Linked DNA regions of Homo sapiens: region 2 is linked to region 1. Evidence: fine-mapped expression QTL. A gene starts in region 1. The other region holds a variant in brackets. All regions are shown on one strand. Distances are between the middles of the regions.

What was found. PIP is the estimated chance that this variant, and not a neighbour inherited with it, causes the effect. A credible set is the group of variants that fine-mapping cannot tell apart.
Region 2: its variant is the best candidate, but not a certain one, in a credible set for the expression of MRPS7 in memory regulatory T cells (Schmiedel 2018, PIP 0.74).

What each region holds. Positions count from the first base shown.
Region 1 is chr17:75,259,755-75,265,120 of GRCh38, forward strand. MRPS7 (mitochondrial ribosomal protein S7) reads left to right here and starts at 2,125. Exons shown (of 5, transcript NM_015971.4): 1 at 2,125-2,229; 2 at 2,743-2,934; 3 at 3,050-3,113; 4 at 3,586-3,753. The coding sequence starts at 2,147. GGA3 (golgi associated, gamma adaptin ear containing, ARF binding protein 3) reads right to left here and starts at 1,852. Exons shown (of 17, transcript NM_138619.4): 1 at 1,794-1,852. The coding sequence starts at 1,833. RefSeq lists enhancers at 1,258-1,357, 1,828-2,237, 2,034-2,911.
Region 2 is chr17:75,225,093-75,230,458 of GRCh38, forward strand. NUP85 (nucleoporin 85) reads left to right here. Exons shown (of 19, transcript NM_024844.5): 8 at 11-145; 9 at 250-372; 10 at 606-737; 11 at 959-1,065. Among named protein-coding and RNA genes, the nearest start is that of NUP85, 22 kb to the left of the region's middle. RefSeq lists enhancers at 1-99, 363-1,562. The variant T/G (reference allele first, on the strand shown) is at 2,243.

The sequences.
Region 1 (5,366 bases):
TCAACTGGTACAGTTCACATTAAGTCGTAACAACTGTGAAGCTTATGTCTCTACAGATACCATGTGACTCCCCCCCACCAAGTGTGTCCCTCTCATTTCATAATGTGACTCTAGGCTGGGTGCGGTAGCTCACGTGTGTAATCCCAGCGCTTTGTAAGGGAAAGGTGGGAGGATCACTTGAACTCGAGTTTGAGACCATCCTGGGCAACACAGCAAGACCTCATCTCTACTAAAAATCAAAAGAATTAGCCAAGCATGGTGGCGTGTGCCTATAGTCCCAGCTACTCAGGAGGCTGAGGTAGAAGACTTATTTGAGCACAGGGGTTCAAGGCTGCAGTGAGCTATGATCGCACCCCTGCACTCCAGCCTAGACAACAGCGCGCGAGACTCTGTCTCAAAAACAAGTAACAAAAACAAAATGTAACTCTAAATGTAGCCTATTAAACTCAGCTTAGGTCATTTAAATTATTCAATACCCATATTAATACCTTCAAAGCAAACTAATTCCACTCTGGTTATAGCAAGTTGGGCATTTCTGGGCAAGTGGTTTGACTGGAGTCAGGATGTCCTCTTTTTGTGAAATTATGGCAGTAGTGCCTGCTTTGCTAGAATACTTGGTAAACTAATTTAATGAATATCTGTAAAGTACTTTGAGCTCCTTGGAGAACACTTCCATATATAAAGAAGCCTTATGACCTGCCTGCAACTGCAGATTTTGCAAACGTGATCTTACTTTTTCTCTCTTTTGGGATATGCTCCCCTTTAAACTGAAGCTCAACCTCCTGAAGGGGGTTTCTTACTAGGAAAAATCAGACAATTTGAGGAAATAGCTATCACCTCCAAGATCCCGGAAGCAGTACTAAATAAGAGACCTCAGAACAAGGCAATACTAGGTATCTCACCTATCCCATTACCAGTCCAATTTCTCTCTCCACTTAAAGGAGGCTTCCAGGTCTAGCCTACAGGAAAGTTCACTTATTAACCCTCAGGCAGAGTACTACCTGCTAACCAGGTTAACACACATTTCCTTCGTAGCACTGTAATTCACAGTGCAATGACAGCAATACGCTTCTATAACTACAGCTTCAGACTGTGCTCCTCAGCCTTACTCAGAATAGGCTATCAACACTGACTCGTTAGGATATTCAAGGGGGTATATGTATGTGTGTGGGGGGGGAATTCCCGACACCGATTTCACCATGCTTCTGTGGTCACTGCAGGAAAAAGGTAGAGCTCTCTGTTCTCTATCATCGCTCTCTTTGGAATATTATTCTCACTTCAAGCATTCTGCCTGAGCGAAGCCGTCACTTCTCCAACACATGGTCACAATTCTGAAGCTGCCAGGCGACTGAACGCAGTCGGCAGCACCCACCACTACCGGAGACTCAGCCCCAATCCGAAGCTTCTCCCTTAGTCAGGGATTGGGGCGCTGGGTTCCTGGTGTCACCGCCGGGCGGCGACCCCACCACAATCTCCCCAAAGCGCCGAAGCATGTCAGCCCGAAGATCTTGGCTGTCGCCTTTCCCCGAGCCTGCGGTGCCCGACAGGAGCCCGAGTTCACGCCGCCGCGCGCCAGAGCAAGAGGACGCGCCGCAGCGAGGGAAGCGGGGGCCGGACTGGGGCCCGGCGCCCTGATAGGGAAGGGGCGTGATCGCAGGCTGCTCGCGGCGAGGGCGAGACCGGGCGTGGGCTGCCAAGAGGCGACGCCGTGGAGCCCGGGGAGGGGACGTGGGGGTGAAGACAGGGGCAGCCCAGCGGCTCGAGGGCAGGCAGAAACGGCCGCGGCTACTCACTGAGCCAGGACTCCAGGCTTTCCCCTTCCGCCTCCGCCATATTGCAGCCGCCCGGCCCCGCGGCTTCAAAACTCGCGAGAGTCTGCACGAGCTGAGACGGGGCGGGGCCTGCATGGGGTCCTGAGAGGAGTGAGTGCCGTCACCGAGGGCCGCGCCAGACTGCGACGGATACAGGGAGGGCAAGGGTTTCCTTTTGGCGCTCCCCTTTGGACCCCGGAGTGAAAAACTCTAACGTCCAGATCAGTGGAGAGAAACGCAGATTTAGGACCCTGAGGAGTCTTTTTCACCCGTTTCCCGTCACTCGCTCAGGCGCGCCGAGGGCAGTCCTTGTGGGGTCCTCGTGGCCAGCCAAGATGGCTGCCCCCGCAGTGAAGGTTGCCCGAGGATGGTCGGGCCTGGCGTTGGGCGTGCGGCGGGCTGTCTTGCAGCTTCCAGGGTGAGAGGGTGGCGAGCAGCGGCGGGGGGGCGCTGCGAGGAAGGAAGGGGGCCACAGGCAGGCCGCGTGGGCCCCTAGAGAGAGCATTGCCCTGGGGGCCGGAGTATCTGGATTCAAGCTTCTAAGTTAGCTGCGTGACCCTGCGCCAATCCGAAGGTTTAGTGACTACCTCTCGCCTAAGGAGTCTGGCTGATCTAGGGTTCTAACGCGGAGCTGAAAGTGCGGTTCAGCTAAAGAGCTCAGATCTGGGATCGCCTGTGAATTGGGATGGGTGTGTAGGCGCCAAGCCCATCCTTACCGTTAGCACTTGACCAGGAGGAGACTTTACCCGCCTGCTTGGGGAATGTCCTCCTACTTGGGACAAGGGCCTGAATTGTTGTGGCTCAGGTTTAGCTCGCGGTCTCCGCGCCGCTCCCCCTCGTCGGCGCGTTGGCAGTCATGCCTATTGTTAAGTCAAACCTACTCGCTTGTGGAGTCAGCTTTTGCCTGCCTCCTCCTTTCCCCCCCTCCCAGGCTAACTCAGGTGAGATGGAGCCGCTATAGTCCTGAATTCAAGGATCCCTTGATTGACAAGGAATATTATCGCAAGCCAGTGGAGGAGCTAACTGAGGAGGAGAAATATGTTCGGGAGCTCAAGAAGACTCAGCTCATCAAAGCTGCTCCAGCAGGGAAAACAAGTTCTGTGTTTGAAGACCCAGTCATCAGGTTAGATGGAAACAAACACTTGTTACATGGACTGGGACTATCCCAGGGAGGGTTTCTGGTGAGGATTCTGTGATACAGCCTTGGAGAGCTAAACGTGTTGCTTTTCTCTTTGAAGTAAATTCACCAACATGATGATGATAGGAGGAAACAAAGTACTGGCCAGATCCCTCATGATTCAGGTAAACAGCACTTCCCTCCTCAGTCATCTTTCTTGCCCCCCTACCCCGTAGCCTTGTACTTGGTACTTTCAGTGTAGCTTAAGAGCAAATGGATTCATGTATCTATTATTCAGATTAACTTCCCTGCATGTGTACGGGCTTTAATGAAGCCCTGTAAGAGTCAGCAACTGCCATTCCTTGGTGTTTCGGAAGTAAACACACAATTAAAAAAAAAGGAACAAATAAAAAATAAAACAACTGCCATTCCCCACCTCACCCCCCACCCCCTCCATGCCACAAATCTCAATCCACTCTTTCTGTCCTAGTCTAGCAAAGGGGGAGGCACTTAAAAACTTTGTTTTGGATGTGCTGTGAGAGGAGCTGCATTGCCAGCGCAGAACCAGAGGATGGGAGTAAAGGGCAAGGTACTAGCTTGGCTGGGTAAACCCTTTAGGGAGCCTGGGGCAGCCTCTTCCACCATATTCTTTTGCAGACTCTGGAAGCTGTGAAAAGGAAGCAGTTTGAGAAGTACCATGCCGCTTCTGCAGAGGAACAGGCAACCATCGAACGCAACCCCTACACCATCTTCCATCAAGCACTGAAAAACTGTGAGCCTATGATTGGGCTGGTACCCATCCTCAAGGGAGGCCGTTTCTACCAGGTGAATGAATGGCCAGGGCAAGAAAGCAGGGCCCTCCACATGTGAAACAAGATAGGTGGTGCTTGGGAGTTGGGTCAAGATTGATAGCTTTCTAGCTGGTGCAGTGGGATTGCACCTGTAATCTCAGCACTTTGGGAGCCTAATGCAGGATAGCTTGAGCTCAGGAGTTAAGAGACAGCAGGGCAACATAGGGAGATCCCGTCTCTACAAAAAAAACAAAAAAATTAGCCAGGTGTGGTGGTGTGCATCTGTGCTCCCAACTACTCAGGAGGCTGAGGTAGGAGGATCACTTGAGTCCAGGAGGTCAAGGCTGCAGTGAGTTATGATTACGCCCCTGCATTCCAGCCTGGGCAAGAGAGAGAAACCTTGTCTCAGAAAAAAAAAAAAAAAAAACGGCTGGGCACGGTGGCTCACACCTGTAATCCCAGCACTTTGGGAGGCCGAGGTGGATGGATTACCTGAGGTGGGGAGTTCGAGATCAACAAGGAGAAACCCTGTTTCTACTAACAATACAAAATTAGCCAGGTGTGGTGGCACATACCAGTAGTCCCAGCTACTTGGGAGGCTGAAGCAGGAGAATCGCTTGAACCCAGGATGCAGAGGTTGCAGTGAGCCGAGAGCACACCACCGCACTCCAGCCTGGCAACAGAGCAAGACGCCATCTCAAAAAAAAAAAAAAAAAAAGAATTGAGACTGTTACGGTCCACTCATCTGAGTCCTGTAGCGTAAAAATTATAGGCAGAAGGTGGAAGAGAGTGAAGAAGTATCTAAGTGACATCTGGGAGCCCACCTCCCTTCGCCTTCTTCTGTCAAGCATCCTGTGTGTCCTAACCTGTAAAATTCTCATGGCGAGGGACTATTCATATCCTGTCTTTGTATGCCAGTGTTTGGCATAGTGCTTGACCGATAACTGATGCTTCATCAGTGTTTGCTGAACAGTACTAGGTATCTCTTTCATAGCATTTAATTATATTTTATTGTCCTGAGTTTTCTTGTGTTCTCCTTTTTCAATATCAACTCCATGGGGTAGGGACTTCATTATTGTCTGCACTCTCGTGTCTGGCATGGTACTGACGCATAGTGAGGGCCTGACAAATGATTTTTGGACACGGGGTCTTGTTTTTGGTTTTCTTTAACTGTTTGTATAGGGTCTTTTTGTTTTTAACTTTTTTTTTTTTTTTTGAGATGGAGTTTCGCTTTTGTTGCCCAGACTGGAGTGCAGTGCTGTAATCTCAGCTCTCGGCTCACTGCAGCCTCCGCCTCCCGGGTTCAAGAGATTCTCCTGTCTCAGTCCCTGCCCACCCCAAGTAGCTGGGATTACAGGTGGCCGCCACCATGCCCAGCTAATTTTTTTGTATTTTTAGTAGAGACAGGGTTTTGCTGTGTCTGAAGACTGAAGGGGTCTTGTTTTTAGGTACCTATGGTCTGAGGTGGATTAGTCACCCCAGCTAATGGGGCTTTTCCTATTTGGTTCTTATAACAACTTGGTAGGACTACCATTTAGGAGGGAAAATGGCCAGTGCTTTTCTTCTTTTTCTTTTTCTTTTTTTTTGAGACGAAGTCTCGCTCTGTTGCCCAGGCTGGAGTGCAGTGGTGCATTCTTGGCTCACTGC
Region 2 (5,366 bases), 35 kb before region 1:
CTCCTCCCAGGTGACCATCTTGGTGCTGCAGGGCCGGCTGGATGAGGCCCGACAGATGCTCTCCAAGGAAGCCGATGCCAGCCCCGCCTCTGCAGGCATATGCCGAATCATGGGGGACCTGATGAGGACAATGCCCATTCTTAGTGTACGTGGGGGTAGCTTTGCTCTGCTGGGTCACAGGAGATGCGTGATTCACTAAATATAAAGGGTGTGGATGGGATGACGTCTCATGGCTGGTCTCTCCCTTAGCCCGGGAACACCCAGACACTGACAGAGCTGGAGCTGAAGTGGCAGCACTGGCACGAGGAATGTGAGCGGTACCTCCAGGACAGCACATTCGCCACCAGCCCTCACCTGGAGTCTCTCTTGAAGGTCTGGGAAGCAGTTCAGATTGCATCCATGTTGGCTTCCTATGGGGGCTGTGGCATCCAGTGCAGCAGTGGCAGGAGCTTGGTCCTCCTTGGATAGGGCTGTCTGTCGCTCTGCCGTGATGGCGAGAGCTTTCAGACTAGTTGAAATCCGGTGCCCTTAGCTGAGAGCAGGAGCATTATGGAGAAGGTACCCCTGAGAGGAGGACAGAGTTCAGCACAAATGTCTCTCCTCAGATTATGCTGGGAGACGAAGCTGCCTTGTTAGAGCAGAAGGAACTTCTGAGTAATTGGTATCATTTCCTAGTGACTCGGCTCTTGTACTCCAATCCCACAGTAAAACCCATTGATCTGCACTACTATGCCCAGGTGAGTGAGCTCGGGGTGGGCAAGGGTGGGGGTAGGAGTCCTGGGGGCGCCCTGATGGGTCATTCTCTTTGAATTCCTCCCTGAGGAACAGGAAGACCCTTTCCTTTGGCCCTTAGTGAAAGAACAAGGCACCTTCTCTGGGGTTCGTTATACAGCAGCCCTGCCTGCCCCGAGTCTCTGCTTCCGTCCTCAGGATTGAGTGTCTCATCACCTTTCCACAGTCCAGCCTGGACCTGTTTCTGGGAGGTGAGAGCAGCCCAGAACCCCTGGACAACATCTTGTTGGCAGCCTTTGAGTTTGACATCCATCAAGTAATCAAAGAGTGCAGGTAGGATCTCTCCCACCCCCCACTGTAACCATTTTTAGGTGTACAAATATCACCACCTTGCGTTTCTAGAGTGGCCTGTTCCTTCCTTACCCTTCTTCCCTCAGACCTGCTATCTTAGTCCATCTCACGCTGATATTACAGAATACCTGAGACCAGATAATTTATAAAGAAAAAGATTATTTTCTCACCGTTCTGGAGGCTAGGAAGTCCAGGATCAGGGCACTGGCAATGTTGCTGGTGAGGGCTGCTCTCTGCTTCCAACATGGCACCTTGAACACTGTGTTCTCATGTGGTGGAAGGGCAAGAAGGACAAACTCCCTTCATCAAGTCGCTTTATAAGGGCACCCAATCACATTCATGAGGGAGGATGTGGCCTAATCACCTCCTGGCCTAATCACCTCTTAGAGGCCCTACCTCTTAATACTATCACATTGGCAAAACTGGGGTTTTAGAGGGGATCCCTTCAAACCATAGCATCTGCTCCCCTGCTTGACTTGCCACAGGTAGATAATGGCTTTTCTCTGGGTGAGCTTAGGGACTTCCTGGAGGCTTGAGGGCTACCATATACATAACTGTTTCCATTTCAGGGATGTTCATTTAAAATAACATCGCGGGAAACTACTTTGACATTTAAAATCTAGAAAAAGCCAGCAAGCCTGTTTCTTGGCACCTAATGGACACCTTATGGGATGGCGTGTTCCAAGAGTCTCACTCCAGTGACGTGAGCTACCGAACCACTGGGCTTCAGGCTGGGTATTATTCAGAATTTCCAGCCCTCTATCCAAAAGAGGGTGTTCTATGATTGCACTGAATCTTTAGCAAGGCAGGAAAGGGAGTGCCAAACATAATCAATCAAAGGTAAACCTTTCCAGAACTCTCCATATATGGTAAGTCAGAAAGAAGGTCCCCTTCCTTGTTGTGCACCCTGGATGGTGGGCATTGCACTGAAGACGTGCTGGGAAGGGAGGAAGTGGGTAATGGCAGAAGATGGCCTTGATCAGGTGTCAGATTCACTGACCTCAACTGGCTGTTTGTAGATCTGGGCATGGGAAGAGTTTCCTTCGCCCTACCTGCTTTTCTTGTTTTGGCCAAAAGAATGCCAGGGCTTCAAGAAAATGATACTAGATTTGGGGAATGAAAAACAAGTTTTTTGTGTGTTTGTTTCTGGGTTTTTTTT[T/G]TTTTTTTTTTTTTTTTTGAGACAGAGTTTTGCTCTTGTCACCCAGACTGGAGTGCAGTGGCGTGATCTTGGCTCACTGCAACCTCCACCTACTGGGTTCCAGCAATTCTACTGCCTCAGTCTCCCAAGTAGCTGGGATTACAGGTGTCCGTCACCACGCCCAGCAAATTTTTGTGTTTTTCAATAGAGACAGGGTTTCACCATGTTGCCTAGGCAGGCTGGTCTGGAACTCCTGACCTCAGGTCATCTGCCCATCTCGGCCTCCCAAAGTGCTGGGATTACAGGCGTGAGCCACCGCGCCCTGCCAAGTTTTTTTTTTTTGAAACAGGGTCTCACTTTGTCACCCGGGCTGGAGTGCAGTGGAGTGATCTCAGCTCACTGCAGCCTTGACCTCCTGGGTTCAAGTGATCCTCTTGCCTCAGCCTTCCAGGTAGCTAGGACTACAAGTGTGCGCCACCATGCCTGGCTAATTATTATTTTTTTTTTTGGAGAGATGAGGTTTCACTATGTTGCCCAAGCTGTTCTTGAACTTGTGAGCTCAAGCGATCTGCCTGTCTTGGCCTCCCACAGTGCTAGGATTACAGGCGTAAGCCACCATGCCCGGCCTGAAAGTCAAGTTTTGTGTCAATATTTTCACAGGCCTGTAAACATTGTGAGAAGTCCCTGCATGGAAGAATTAGTGAGAATAACTTAAAAACACACAAACACACCATCGTTTGGCTTTGTTGGTGTCTCTGCCCATAGTTGAGTATTCTAAATTTCCTGTGTTATAACAGTGAGTGAGTTTCACCAGGGCTTCCTAATTTATAAGCCCTGTATCTGGATTTTTAGGAATAAAACAGATTTGAGCAGAAGAAGTCTGTTGGATGCAGGGAGTATAAAAGGGGAAAGCATCCTGCTGTTTCCAGTGGCAGAAGAGAAAGAGAAGTACCATGAAGAGGGGTGAACAACATCACTCTCGTGCCGGACACAGACAAGGAATGATTAGGCTTGCAGTCCCCCAGTCTCAGCCTCTCTCCACTCTCACAAGCAGGAAGGGATCTGAGCTCTGTTAGTGGGAAATCTTGGAGTTTGCATTTCTCTGATCACGAGGCTACCTCCTATCCTGTTTTGAAAGAGGAACAGAAAAGCAGAGCTTGTCCCAGGAATTGTGAAATGGGCTGCAATGTCTTCAGAGGCAGTAGCAGTTTTAGGAAGTGTGCCCTCCTGGCTCTGGGGAAAGGTTGAATTGGGGTCTTGTGGGCACTTGTTTTCTCATGGGATGTATCAGTCAGACCCATGCACAGTTCTGGGCGGCAGGGAAGTGTGTCTCTTTCTGGACTTGAGCCAGTGAGCTGTTGGCATGCCTTTTTAAAGGCATTAGAAAAAAGGTTTCTTTCTTTTTTTTCCTTTCCTGTTCACACCACCTTCATATGAACATGGAGAAGGGAGGTTTCTAAGTGGGCCCCTGATTTACTCCTATGTCAATAATCGTGCCAGACCCTAAGGGGCAGAAAAGGCAGCCAGGGGATCCTGACTCAGAGGCTGTAGTTCGTCAGCCCTGCTAAAGGGCCAGGGGTTTGTCTCTCAGTGCCTGGGTGGGCATGCTTGACTGCTAACCCCTTAGCTGAAAGGAGATGGCAGGAGTCCTCCACAGGGTCCCTTCTTCCCTCCTGGCTTACAGCTTCCTCTGAAGACGGGCCAGTTCCTTGCTGTCTGGCAAGAGGAAACAGCTGGGGTGCACTTCACTGGGAGTTGGGCAAGATGTCGGCAGTTTCCTGGTGCCCTTCAAGTCCTCCAAAAGTATCGAGCTAAAAGGTGACAAGTCTTCCTTCAATAACCAAGAAGAGTTCCAGCTTAATGTCTGCTGAATCTAGAATCTTCTGACTTGTATTTTGGCCCAGCCCACAATCTTGGATGCAGGGTGCAGCAGTGTTTACAAACCTCACACCCCATTTCCAGAATAGCAGGTAGAGGCACTGGAGCTTTGATTACTCCAGAGCCCCCAACAAGCAAGATGGGGCCTGGGTAAGGAGTTGACAGTGACCTTAGTACAGGACAAACAGCTCATTTGGGGCTACAGTTGCTTAGAGGGGTCACCTTCACCGTAGCTGGTCTTCCCAACTCCGCAGCGTTCTCTCGTTTTCAGCAGAGGGCTACTTTGGAGCTGATAATTAGGCCTTTCTTGCCTTGAATGTTAAGGATGCCCACCTGCTCTGTGTCTCGGCTGCTCACTCAGAATCCTTCAGAGTGAGAGAGAGACAGAGTGAGAGTGGGAGTGTGTGCGTGTGTGATCTAAGACCTAACTGTGTGGTTCAGGCCTGCTGGGCCCTGTAGAGAGACCGTGGTGGCTTTGTGCAGCACTATGTCTGGTCTCCGTCACTTGAGTTGTGTTGTTAGTTCTCTGCTCTCAGTGCTTGCTGCCTTCCAGCCTTGGAGGCTGCTGGATCCTTTGGGAAGACACCGGGCACTGTCTCAGCCCTTCCTTCCAGTTGTTGGTGGCTTTCGTGCAGGCTAAGGCTTTGGCTCCCTTAGCCTGGGTCCCCTATAGCCTTTTCACTGGCTTCTCCAATGGTTTCGACATAACCATCAGCTAGAAATCTGGGTAGCAACAGCTGTTTTGGGAAGCTGAGGTGTCCTTTCCCCTGGCCCAGCCCACTCCCTCCCATTTTTTTCCCCAGCTTTATTGAGGTGTGATTAACAAAGTAGTATGTATTTAAGGTGTACAAAATTTTTTTTTTTTTTTTGGAGACAGAGTCTTGCCCTGTCACTCAGGCTGGAGTGCAGTGGCACGATCTCAGCTCACTGCAGCCTCTGCCTCCTGGGCTCAAGCGATCTTCTGCCTCAGCCTTCCGAGTAGCTGGGACCACAGGCACACGCCACCACGCCCAGCTAACTTTTGTATTTTTGGTGGAGATGGGGTTTTGCCATTTTGGCCAGGCTGGTCTTGAACTCCTGAGCTCAAGTGATCCACCCGCCTCGGCCTTTCAGTGTTGGGATTACAGGAATGAGCCACTGCACCCGGCCAAGGTGTACAACATGTTTTTTGTTTTTTTTTTTTTTTGAGATGGAGTCTCACTTTGTCGCCCAGGCCGGAGTACAATGGCGCGATCTCGTCTCACTGCAAGCCCCGCCTCCTAGGTTC